Linked DNA regions of Homo sapiens: region 2 is linked to region 1. The links come from fine-mapping of genetic effects on gene expression. A gene starts in region 1. The other region holds a variant in brackets. All regions are shown on one strand. Distances are from middle to middle.

Region 1 (5,514 bases):
TCCCACAATGCGAGAATGATAAAATAAAATTGGATATTTGAGAAACATTGTGCTTTTTCATTTAAAGACCAAAGTCATTTGAATTCGATGGCAGGCCTTTCTCTTTCTGAGACCTGTACGAAATGGCTGATATTAAAGCAGGATCAATAATGTAAGCATAAAATTACATTTGCTCAGTCAGTCGGGCCCAGTGCTTTGCCTGAGTGTGAAACCCATTTCTGTGGGCTTGGGGGTTGACCAGGCAAGGAGCTGGGCCTCAGAGGTTCCATGTCATAGCTGGCTGAGTTTCAGCTGTTATCTAAGCTGCCTGAGTCTCCTTTTATCATAAAGTAGTGATGGTGTCAGTGTGCGAAATGGTGGGGAGGACTGCATGAGGATTGACGGACAGCATTGTGCCCCTGACGGTGAGCACAAGTGTCTGTTTTTGTCACCTTTTCCTCTAGAGAAATCTAGAGGATCTAGAGAAAGGATCAATTTGGGTTTTACTGACCTCAAGTTTCTAAAGCTTCTAACCAAGAAGCCTCAATCACCCCGTTGTGAGCTGACGCTGCCATTGGCTCAAGATCATTGCTGGTACTGGGGTATGTCCTCCAAGCTCATCCCTTGCATTTGATGTGGAAAGCCCAGATCATTTTGACATGGGTGGCAAAGCACCACCACTTTAACAAAAAAGGGAGGCTGGGATCAGATCTCTCGTAACATATGCACTTATGTTAAGAGAATTTAGACACATTATTTAGAGACATCCCATTTCTCAATCCAAATGTGAGCAGGAAACTGTAGGAGAAGGATATTTTCCCTCATTTGGTGTCCCGGAACATGACTCCCTGAAGGGAGCCATTCTGGGGACAATTGGAGGGTGTGGTATGCGTGTGCACACATGCATTTGTGTGCCTGGTGTGCGTGTGGGGGTTGGCACCTCTCTAGAAGTGGACCCTTTGGGATGTCCTAGCTTCTCCTGCTGGTGGATGAAGCCTTTCTAATGGCTTTGCTCCTTGCTCCTAGGCATGAGCTTGAAGGGGGATAATGAAGGGCGTTTAGGAAGTTGCTCAAGGAAGACTGTCTGAGGAAACTGCGTACTGGGCTGAAGAAAGACAACCGGAAAACACTGAAGGAGCGCTCAGCCACTGCACCTTCAAAAAGGCAGAAAAGTCAGTTCAGGGAGGTGCCTCCCAGCTACCCCACCCACCTCAGGAGGGGTCATTCCAACCTAGGGTGCTGAGAATCTGGGTGGGATTACCAGCAAAAGCTAGAGAACCATGGGTCAGCGACCCTTAGGAAGAAGTGGAAAGGAGTCTTAACTTACCTGCAATAACCTTCCTATGCGAAGTTGTGGCTAACGCATGCCTAATGGCTAGAATTAAATGCTGGGAATATAACGAGCTCAGCACAGGTTATCCGCGTGTCAGATGTTCCTGCTGTCTTCTACAGTGGGGACATTTCCTAGCCTATTCCCAGGCTCCTTTAGAAGGGAAGTGGAGGTGCCCCATCTTCACCTGCCGCGTCCCCTCCAGCGTCTGCCCGGGCCCTGGGCCTGCGCTCCCTCGCGGTGGCGCCAGGTGGCGGGGCTGCGCGCCCTGGAGGAGCTGCACCGCCGTCGCGGGGCTCTCTCAGCACTGAGGACACCACGCCCTGCAAATTGTTGGGAACTTGTCGGTGGCAATCACACTGCTGGCTCCTGCAAACTGGTGTGAGGCCCTCAGGGGTGAGAACAGGATTGCAGAACTGCGCTCACCCTTTTGGAAAGTCGTCCAGTGGCAGAAGTAGCCTCCCAGGAGCAGAGCGAAGCTGCTCGGTGGTCCCCTCTCCAACCAGGGACCCAAGAAGCCGCTCAAGGGAACACGGCCCCGCGGCGTCCGGGAGGTCCTGCAGGAGCCCTGCGGCTGCCCCGGTTCTGTGAAATGGCAGTGAGGGTGGGGGAGATGTGCGCTAAATCCTGGGAACGTGCGAGTCATAACTTTCCAGGAGAGGGGCCCAGGGCGCTGGTCCTGCAGGGCGTGGAACCCTCTGCTCTTCCTGAGCAGGCTTTGTCCCCGGGTCGACACGGGGAGCTCAGCGTGAGGCCCGCCTGCAGCGTGGACGCAGATCTTTTTTATGGTCTGCGTTTCTGTATTAGCCTCAGCAGCCTGGTGACGCCTTTATAAAAGGTCGAAACACGATAAATTGCCAATATTCCACGTTTTATGTATTCCCCCCAAAGCCGACAATTAACAATGACTCACCGAGCAGCAGATTCTTTGCACACATCCATAATTGAATCAGTAAAATCCATGTGTTGGAGGATATGCAAATTGCAGGTCGTTAACGCTTTAGAACGACACATTTCTGTATCGCCCCGTGAAGAGCTCTACGCACATGAATGTTCCCCGTCTGTTTAACTGTTACGGCCGCAGTGTGTGGGCCGCAGGCGCGCTGGGGGCTCATCTGCTGATTTTGCTGCCCCTGGAGCAGAGGGATAGCGAAAGCGGGGCTGAGCGCAGCACGGACCGATCCCATCGCCGCGCTCGCCCCGCGTGGAGGCAGCCGGGTGCCCGAACCTGAAGGAGGACCCGGTGCCGGAAGGGCCCGCGGACCCCGGCGTCTCCCGGGGCATCGAGCGCCATCGCCCGCGTTTTACGGCCAGGGAAACTGAGGCGGCCGCCGAGGGGACGCCTCGCGACGGTTCCTGGGAGAGCTGGCGGCGGCCTTGCTCTGCGCGCTCTTCGCGCCGCCCTCCCCGCCCGCCCGCCTCAGGATTGAGGAAGTGCGTCTGGGCCCGGCCCCGGCGCGGGGGGCAGACGGCGGTGGGACGGCCAGGCCCCGGCCCCGCCAGTGTGTCCGCCCGGCCCCGCGTCCCGGAGCGCCCGCACCCGGCCCCGCCGCCGCCTCAGGTAAGCGCCGCTCCTGCCGGCGCCCCCCGGCGGCCTGGCTGCCTCCCGGCCCCGCCCGGGGAACCCAGAGCCCGCGCCCGGCGCCCGCGGGGAGCCTCGGCCTCTGCCTGCCCGCGGGCCCCTGCGCTCCGGGCGGCCGCGTGGTCGGGCACGGGGGGCCGTTGCGCAGGGGCCGCGGCCCGAGGGGCGCGGAGGGCGTGTGGGGCGACCCCGGTCTCACGTCCCCGCTGCCTCCCGCCGCGCCCGGAGCCCAGCCAGCCTGTGGGAGGGGAGCGCGCGGGGCCCGAGCAGGGAACCCCGAAACCCCGTCCGGGCAGGGTCGGGAAAGCTGGGAAGCGGAGGCAAGAGACACGAGTCGGGAGACACGAGCCGGGGAGCCCATAGGTTTCCTCTGCCTTTGGAGCGAACCCAGTCCCTTAGCGGGGAGCGGGCGGAGTGTGAGCGCGCGGGTGAGCCCGTGCCGGGGTGTCGGCAAGAGACCGCCCGGGAGCCTCTCGCTGGTCCGGGGCTTCCTGGGGTTGCGGGGCGGCCCAGCGAGGCTTCACCCTCCTCGATGTCTGGGTCACGCTTCTTGCCCAGGTGGTCTCTGGCTGGCGCAGATACAACTGCTCTGTCTACCATGGTCTCTGCAAGCTACAGGGGACCTTCCTGGCAGGCAGGGACGCGGGAAGGAAGCCTAGGAAGGCCGGGGTCAGCGAGGAGACGCTGGTGGAGAATCTGAGAACCCCCGTGGCCATCTCAACCTACCCCTTCACAGTATGAGGCCGCGAAGTTTTTCTCCCACGAACACTTCCCCTGCAACAGGTAGAGAAACGGGGGCATATAGCTTTCAGCAAACCTCTCACCGTGTACACTAATGATAGAGTTTGCCAGCCACTCACAGGGTATCAAAATGCCCAGACATTAAAGGGATAGCTAGAACATGCACAATTTTGGAAAATGTTAACATTAAACGCCTTTTATGATTTGATTCTCTTCATCTTTGCCTATGTCCTGAAAGAGAAAATAATATAACAAACTAACCTCACACCTAATTTGTTCCTAAAGGAGGTTTTGCGGTCAGCCAAACCTTTCCCTCTCCCAAAAGTCGATGTCTCTGGCAGTGACCTCGCAGTCAACTCGGATCCTCAGATAAAAAACATTCAGTCTGTTGAATCTATGTCTAAAATGTGTCCTGATCTGTCCCCTTTTTCTTATGCCCCCACCCCCCACCCTGCCCCTTGTCCAGGGTACCAGCATCTCTTTACTGTAGGATTTCAGTTCCCCCTTCCTCCATTCTCTATATAGCAGCGTGCGTCTGTGTGTGTCTGTGTGTTTAAATGGGTAAATCAGACCATATCAGTCCTCTTTATGGAGTCCTTCAGTAGCTTCTCCTTGCAACTGGCACGCAATCCAGGAGACCTCCTTCTCCTCACACCCCCAGCTGATCCAGCCTCTGCTGTCTCGGACCACCAGGCCATTGCCCCAGGCCACACTGGCTGAGCTTGCTGTCCAGCACTGGTCCCCTGCACTGCTGCCTCCTGACTCTTCACACAGCCTCAGAAAGTCTTCCCTGGTCACCCTCTGAAAACCCACGCTCCCTCTCACATCCCTCACTCTGCAGCCTCCCTGCAGTCCCCATTCTGTACTCCTTCTTTATCTGTTTAATTTCTCCTTAATTATCTTGTGGTCTCCACTGGAGCTCTTGGGGTCAGAGACTGATCTGTCTTGCTTATTGCTGTGCCCTCATTCCCATAACTGTACAGGGAGATACCCCGTGCATGGTGGTAGAGTGACTGGATGGGGAATGGACAACCCTAACTTACCTGTGGTTTCAGACTCATGGAGCATTTCTCTCCTCCACCCTTTTTGGGCTCATCTGGGATTGAGAACAACATATTTCTCTGGCCTGCAGCTCCAAGATATTTGGATGCCCCCAAACCCATTAAACACATTTTATAGGCAAAAGCCAATGCTAGTAAGGGATGCAAATAGCACTCAAGAGATTTCTAGAATCATGGGCTAACCATTTTGACCAGGATTTTGTTTCAAAAAGGAACTAGGTGATATGAATGAGCATGTCTAGCATGCTTTGCTTGCAAGGGACTTCTAACTTCTAACTGATATCGACAGTCCTTCCCAAGCCTCCTAAAATATCTGGGCTTCTCTGCTGTCAGAAGCTTTATAGCAATTACTTAGCTGTCTGCTCCCCCACCAGCTTCACAAACTCATGAAGTTCCCTCTTCATAGAAAGAACTCAATAAGACATTTGTAGAATGAATGACAGGTTCTTCTCTTTTCTTTTCTCTAGAGTCTTGCTCTGTCACCCAGGTTGGAGTGCAGTGGTGCAATCTTGGCTCACTGCAACCTCCACCTCCCCCAGTTTAAGTGATTCTCATGCCTCGGCCTCCCAAGTAGCTGGGATTACAGGCGCCCACCAGCATGCCCAGCTAATTTTTGTAATTTTAGTAGAGATGGGTTTTTACCATATTGGCCAGGGTGATCTCGAACTCCTGACCTCAAGTGATCCACTCTCCTCGGCCTCCCAAAGAGCTGGGATTACAAGCGTGAACCACCGCACCCATCTATTTTCTTTTCCATTAAATGTTTAGGTTTATTCATTAATGCAGGTATAAATAGTTGGCAAAAGGAAATTGATGAGGTT
Region 2 (5,062 bases), 24 kb before region 1:
TTCCCAGCCAGAGTGGTCAGGAATGGCCAGCATTCCCAGGAAGGTGGTCTCTTAGCTGGGCCTTAAAGATAAGAAAGACTTGTTCAACAAGGAAAAGGATTTTCCAAGGAGTGGGAATGGCCTAGGCAAAAGTGCAGAGGTGGCTGGGCTACTTGGAAGGGAACAGCAGGAAAGCTGGTGGGGCTAGAGCTCAGGCAGGAGCAAAAGTGAGGAAAAGGGTGAGCACACGTGGCAGGTGGTGTGGGCCAGCTTCCAGCAGCTTTGGCTGCTAAGGGGCCGGGACTTTATTCATTGGGCGGTGGGGATGCTTATAGGTGCCCAAGAAGTGCAACAATGCTGCCTGTCTGTTTGGGAAGCCTCTGGCCATTGCAACAACAGCCAGGCAGGAAGCTGAAGAGCCAGGTGGCAACATGAAGTGAGGGTTCAAAAAGTGCCCATGGAGGCAGGGAGGAGGACACGTCTTCAGCAGATGTTTTAGAGGGAGAGGTAGAACACATGCAACAGCATCCTCTTTGCAAAGGCTGCCTATTAGTACCACCCAGAATGCAGTTTAGGAAGTGCTGTGCAGGATTGCAGTTCTGATCATTGCACACTCCTATGTTACCCCACATACCCCAAATCCAGACCATGAAAAGCAAGTGTCCTCCACAAAGGCATCGTTGAGCACATGGGACAGGGTAAGAGGGTGGATCTGGGCCTCCAAAGCCCCTGTGCTCTGTCGCAGTGGAACTTCCCCCTGCTGATGCTGGTGTGGAAGCTGGCACCCGCCCTCTGCTGTGGGAACACCATGGTCCTGAAGCCTGCGGAGCAGACACCTCTCACCGCCCTTTATCTCGGCTCTCTGATCAAAGAGGTGAGACATCCAAAAAGAAAATATCACATGTTCTTGGTAACATTCCCACTCCTAGGAACCAGGCCACCGTCACGAGATGGGACAGTGGCAGACTGCTGGCAATCGAGTGGGAAGGGAATGACTTCCAGTGTTTTGTTTGGCGACTGCACGTTCTTTCTCCTGCTTGTGGCCACTGAGCTGGAGAAACTCCATTCCTCCCAGTGGTCCTAATGAGAATGCTTAACTCTTATTATGGGCTCAAACCTATGGTTGAGGACCCAGTGGTTTGTCTAGAGAATTTTCAGGGGGGGTCAACCAAGAGGGAGCCAAATATTTGGGAGGTTCTCTGGGATTTGCATTCTCAGTTTATGAAATGGTCCATTTTTCTCTGGAGAGGTGGCCTCGTCAGCTCTAGCTGGGCGGCTGCAGCAGTCCGTGTGCCGGGTCCCTGCTAATCAGTGCCCTCTGCTCTGAATGCAATCTCTTCTCCCTCAGGCAGCCAGAACTTAGGGAAACAGAGGCTCAATGGGACACCTCCTTCCAGACATACCTTTAGTCATTCCATCCCCAGGTTGTATGGAGCAAAGATTTAGAGAAAGCAACAGGAAGCAAAGAGGGACAGAAGAAAAGATCCATTCCTTTCTCTTCTTAGTCGGGCTGATATGACCGGCAGGCAGGTCCACAGTTGCTTAGAAGCAAGGTGGGAACAGCTGGTGATGAGCCAATTTTCCACTTTCCTTTGGTGATGTGGGGCATAATTAAGTCACACTGGTGAGACTTAGGAATGTGAAAATCCCAACTGTTAAGAAACAGTGCCTAAAAATCTAAAGACTCAAGCAGCGTGCCTAAAATCTTGATTTTCTGAAATAATGTGTTCTAAGTAAGACTCAGCACAGGTGGGGAAGAGCATCCTCCACCTCGTTTGTTTTGTGTTCTCGCCTGATAAAGAGGCTTAGTATATGAAAAACACGAGGCATGAACGTGAACGAGGTGGCAGTCCCTGCCTTCCAGAAGGGCTTGCTCCAGGTGAGACCCAGGTTGAACAAGCAAAGAACTTTAAGGGAGTGATACCCTGTCACCATTTGGAATAATAACGGGTCTGATTAAAAAATGAAAACTGGGCTCACGCCTGTAATCCCAGGACTTTGGGAAGCCGAGGTGGGTGGATCACGAGGTCAGGAGATCGAGACCATCCTGGCTAACACAGTGAAACCCCATCTCTACTTAAAAAAAAAAAAATTAGCCAGGCGTGGTGGCGGGCACCTGTAGTCCCAGCTACTCAGGAGGCTGAGACAGGAGAATGGCGTGAACCTGGGAGGCGGAGCTTACAGTGAGCCAAGATCGCGCCACTACACTCTAGCCAGGGCGACAGAGCAAGACTCCATCTCAAAAAAAAAAAAAAGAAGAAAAAACAAAACTGAAGCTCTTGGCAGATATTTTGCAGGTGCCTCTGATCCTGGGCAGGGCATTCTGATCAAGGTACCCCTCTCCCCTTAACGCATACACACACTCTCCCTCACACACACACACACCCCACATGGAAAGGTGCTGTGCTACAGGCGGGCCATGGCCACCTTGAAGCATAACCACACATTTGCACTGCATATCACTTTGGGATGGGGTCCCCCCCCAGAAGGAGAAGTGGGCATCTCCCCTTGCCCAGCCTGCACACTGGGCTGGCAGCAGGGGATGAGAAGCCCAGGTCAGCTCCCAGGGTGCCCACGGTCAACTGCTTCTGGGTCCTGGGTAAATCCAGCCCGGCCCGGGTTCCCTGTGGGGATGTGAGGCAGCCACGGCTCTCTCGGCCCAAATGTGGATCCGTGGTGGATGAAGTCCGTTCTTCTTCAAGTGCTATCTTGATTTCTTCCCAGGCCGGGTTCCCTCCAGGAGTGGTGAACATTGTGCCAGGATTCGGGCCCACAGTGGGAGCAGCAATTTCTTCTCACCCTCAGATCAACAAGATCGCCTTCACCGGCTCCACAGAGGTAACCCTCCTCACAGGGTGCTGGGGAAAGTGAAAGGGGCGTGTTATTTGACACCCGTGAGCTTTTCCTTTGACAGGCTTTAATATGATTTGTTTTTCTTCTAAATTTGACCATGTTTTAGTACATAACAACCAGTTAAAAAAAGTCACTGGTCTAGTTTCCAAACTAAATAAATATCTAATAGAACTCAGAAGCCTTAGAAGAAAAGATTGAGAGATAAGATAAAGTAGAAATGTAAAATATTCATCTGTCAAACACCATAATTAAGATTAAGAGATAAATAACAAGCTCAGAGAAAAATAGTCGTGATGCATGCAGTGCTCCAAGAATTTATATCCGTCATATGCAAAGTGCTCCTACAAGTCAAT[GA/G]AAAAAAAAAACCAAACTGAATGGTAGAAAAATGGGCAGTTCAGAGAATAGAAATACGACGTGCCCATTAAGCTTAAACTAGTTTGCTGGTAATCAGGAAAATGCAAATTCAAACAAAATCAGACTTTCCTTTTGCCTGCCAGATTGCTAAGAACTGAAATGATACTGCTGAGAATATGGGGAAGCAGGTGCTCAGCGACACTTGCCCTAAGATGCACAGTGTTTTGGTAGCACTCATCCAACATTTAAAGTGAAAAACTTTTCGATTCAGAAGCTCCATTTCAAAAAAAGAAAAAACTACTTAGAGAAATTTTCTCATGAGGCTTCAGGGACATATTTTCAAGGATATTATATTCATTCTCTGGAATGTTTTACAGCCGTTACAACAAGGAAAGCTGTCCATGATCTATTGTTGAAGCACAAAACAGCAAACGGTAGAAAATTACCCACAATATTTTCCCATTCGTAGAGGTGTGTGCTTGTAGAAGTAGAAATTATCTGGAAGGATTCCCAAGAAATCCTTACTGATGGCCACCTATGGGGTGGGCTCGGGGCAGAGCCGGAGGGAAGCTGAAGGCTTTCTCCCTGTAATTCACATACATCTCTATGTGGAATTACTTTTAATGAGAAAGTATTTCTTCTGTACTTAAAAAAGAAAAAAACACCCGCTGCAATCAGTGTCCCCATCCCCCTCCTTAGTTAGTCCAAGCCCTGGTGGATGCTGTTACTCTCCTTGGAGACAGACACTGCCCTGTGGATGGATTCCAGACCTCATTCAGCCATCACCCATGAGCTTGCTGATGTTTAAAATGCGCTCACACCTTAGCATTGGAGAAAACAGTCTCAGACCCGGAAGAGCCTGGGCCGCGCCTTGCTAGCTTCTGGCTCTAGGCCTCCGTGTCTGCACTGGTCTCTGAGGATCTTCCCAGCTCTGAAGTTCGTGGTGCTGGGCTTTACTTGTTGCCCTAGATAAGTCACCGAGTCATGCTGGGCCAGCCCTCCCCTCCAGGGGTACAGTGGGCAATGGGAGAGACCCCGTGGGGGCCTTGAGCATGACTGGTGAGTGGCTTTTCTGCTCATAGCGCACCCCTTCACTCCCTGCCTGTCTGCGGCAGCCTCAGTCTTAGAGTGTGTTTCCAGAGAATCGGCTCCTTCTCATCCGGAAGGCTGGCTGCCCTCGCTACTTCTCTAACACTTGGAGGTTCCCTCAGATCACACCAAAGAGCCACACAGAACCACCCCCCTACTGGGCTGTTGGAATTTCAGCTGTTTCTAGTGAGAGGTAGAAGAGTCACCCTGCGGTCCCTGAAGCCCTTTACCAGACTGGCTGGACCAGCCTGCTGGGCTCAGAAGGACAGGCACCAGGACAGGTTAGCGGGTGGCAGCCCTGTTCCCAGCCAGCTGTGTGGGCTTCCAGAGGCTCTAACTCACACCTGTAAGTGGAGCGGCTTAGACCAAGGATCCCAGGATGTCATGGTCTGGCATGGGAGGAGATGCTGGCAGAGGCCAGGACAGTGAAGGGACGGCATCGGGGCCTGGAGCGCCTGGGCCGAGAGCCAGGTGGTGGCACTGCCACCCGGGCTTGATCAGAATGTTCACTGATGTTTACGCCTGGGCCAAGTTCAGCAACATCCAAGGTAAATTGTGATCTGTGTTCTGTCCTGGAGGTTGGAAAACTGGTTAAAGAAGCTGCGTCCCGGAGCAATCTGAAGCGGGTGACGCTGGAGCTGGGGGGGAAGAACCCCTGCATCGTGTGTGCGGACGCTGACTGTGAGTCTCTGCCCTCCTGGGCTTTGCTGGGGCTTCAGGGCATCCATCTGTCTCCCCCTACTTCCTGGCCTGAATTCAAAACCAACTGAGAGTAAGATGTGTGCAC

Evidence for each region. PIP is the estimated chance that this variant, and not a neighbour inherited with it, causes the effect.
Region 2: its variant is the best candidate, but not a certain one, in a credible set for the expression of ALDH1A3-AS1 in prefrontal cortex (BrainSeq, PIP 0.71).

Annotation. Positions count from the first base shown.
Region 1 is chr15:100,916,582-100,922,095 of GRCh38, forward strand. It overlaps ALDH1A3-AS1 (ALDH1A3 antisense RNA 1), which reads right to left and starts at 2,702. Exons shown (of 2, transcript NR_135827.1): 1 at 2,223-2,702. It overlaps LRRK1 (leucine rich repeat kinase 1), which reads left to right and starts at 2,776. Exons shown (of 34, transcript NM_024652.6): 1 at 2,776-2,870. It overlaps ALDH1A3 (aldehyde dehydrogenase 1 family member A3), which reads left to right. Exons shown (of 13, transcript NM_000693.4): 13 at 1-45. RefSeq lists silencers at 1,443-1,662, 2,423-3,012 and enhancers at 1,448-2,040, 1,793-1,882, 1,933-2,052, 3,227-3,818, 4,345-4,404.
Region 2 is chr15:100,893,230-100,898,291 of GRCh38, forward strand. ALDH1A3 (aldehyde dehydrogenase 1 family member A3) reads left to right here. Exons shown (of 13, transcript NM_000693.4): 6 at 725-853; 7 at 2,704-2,817; 8 at 4,854-4,956. ALDH1A3-AS1 (ALDH1A3 antisense RNA 1) reads right to left here. Exons shown (of 2, transcript NR_135827.1): 2 at 1-2,837. Among named protein-coding and RNA genes, the nearest start is that of ALDH1A3, 16 kb to the left of the region's middle. The variant GA/G (reference allele first, on the strand shown) is at 3,186.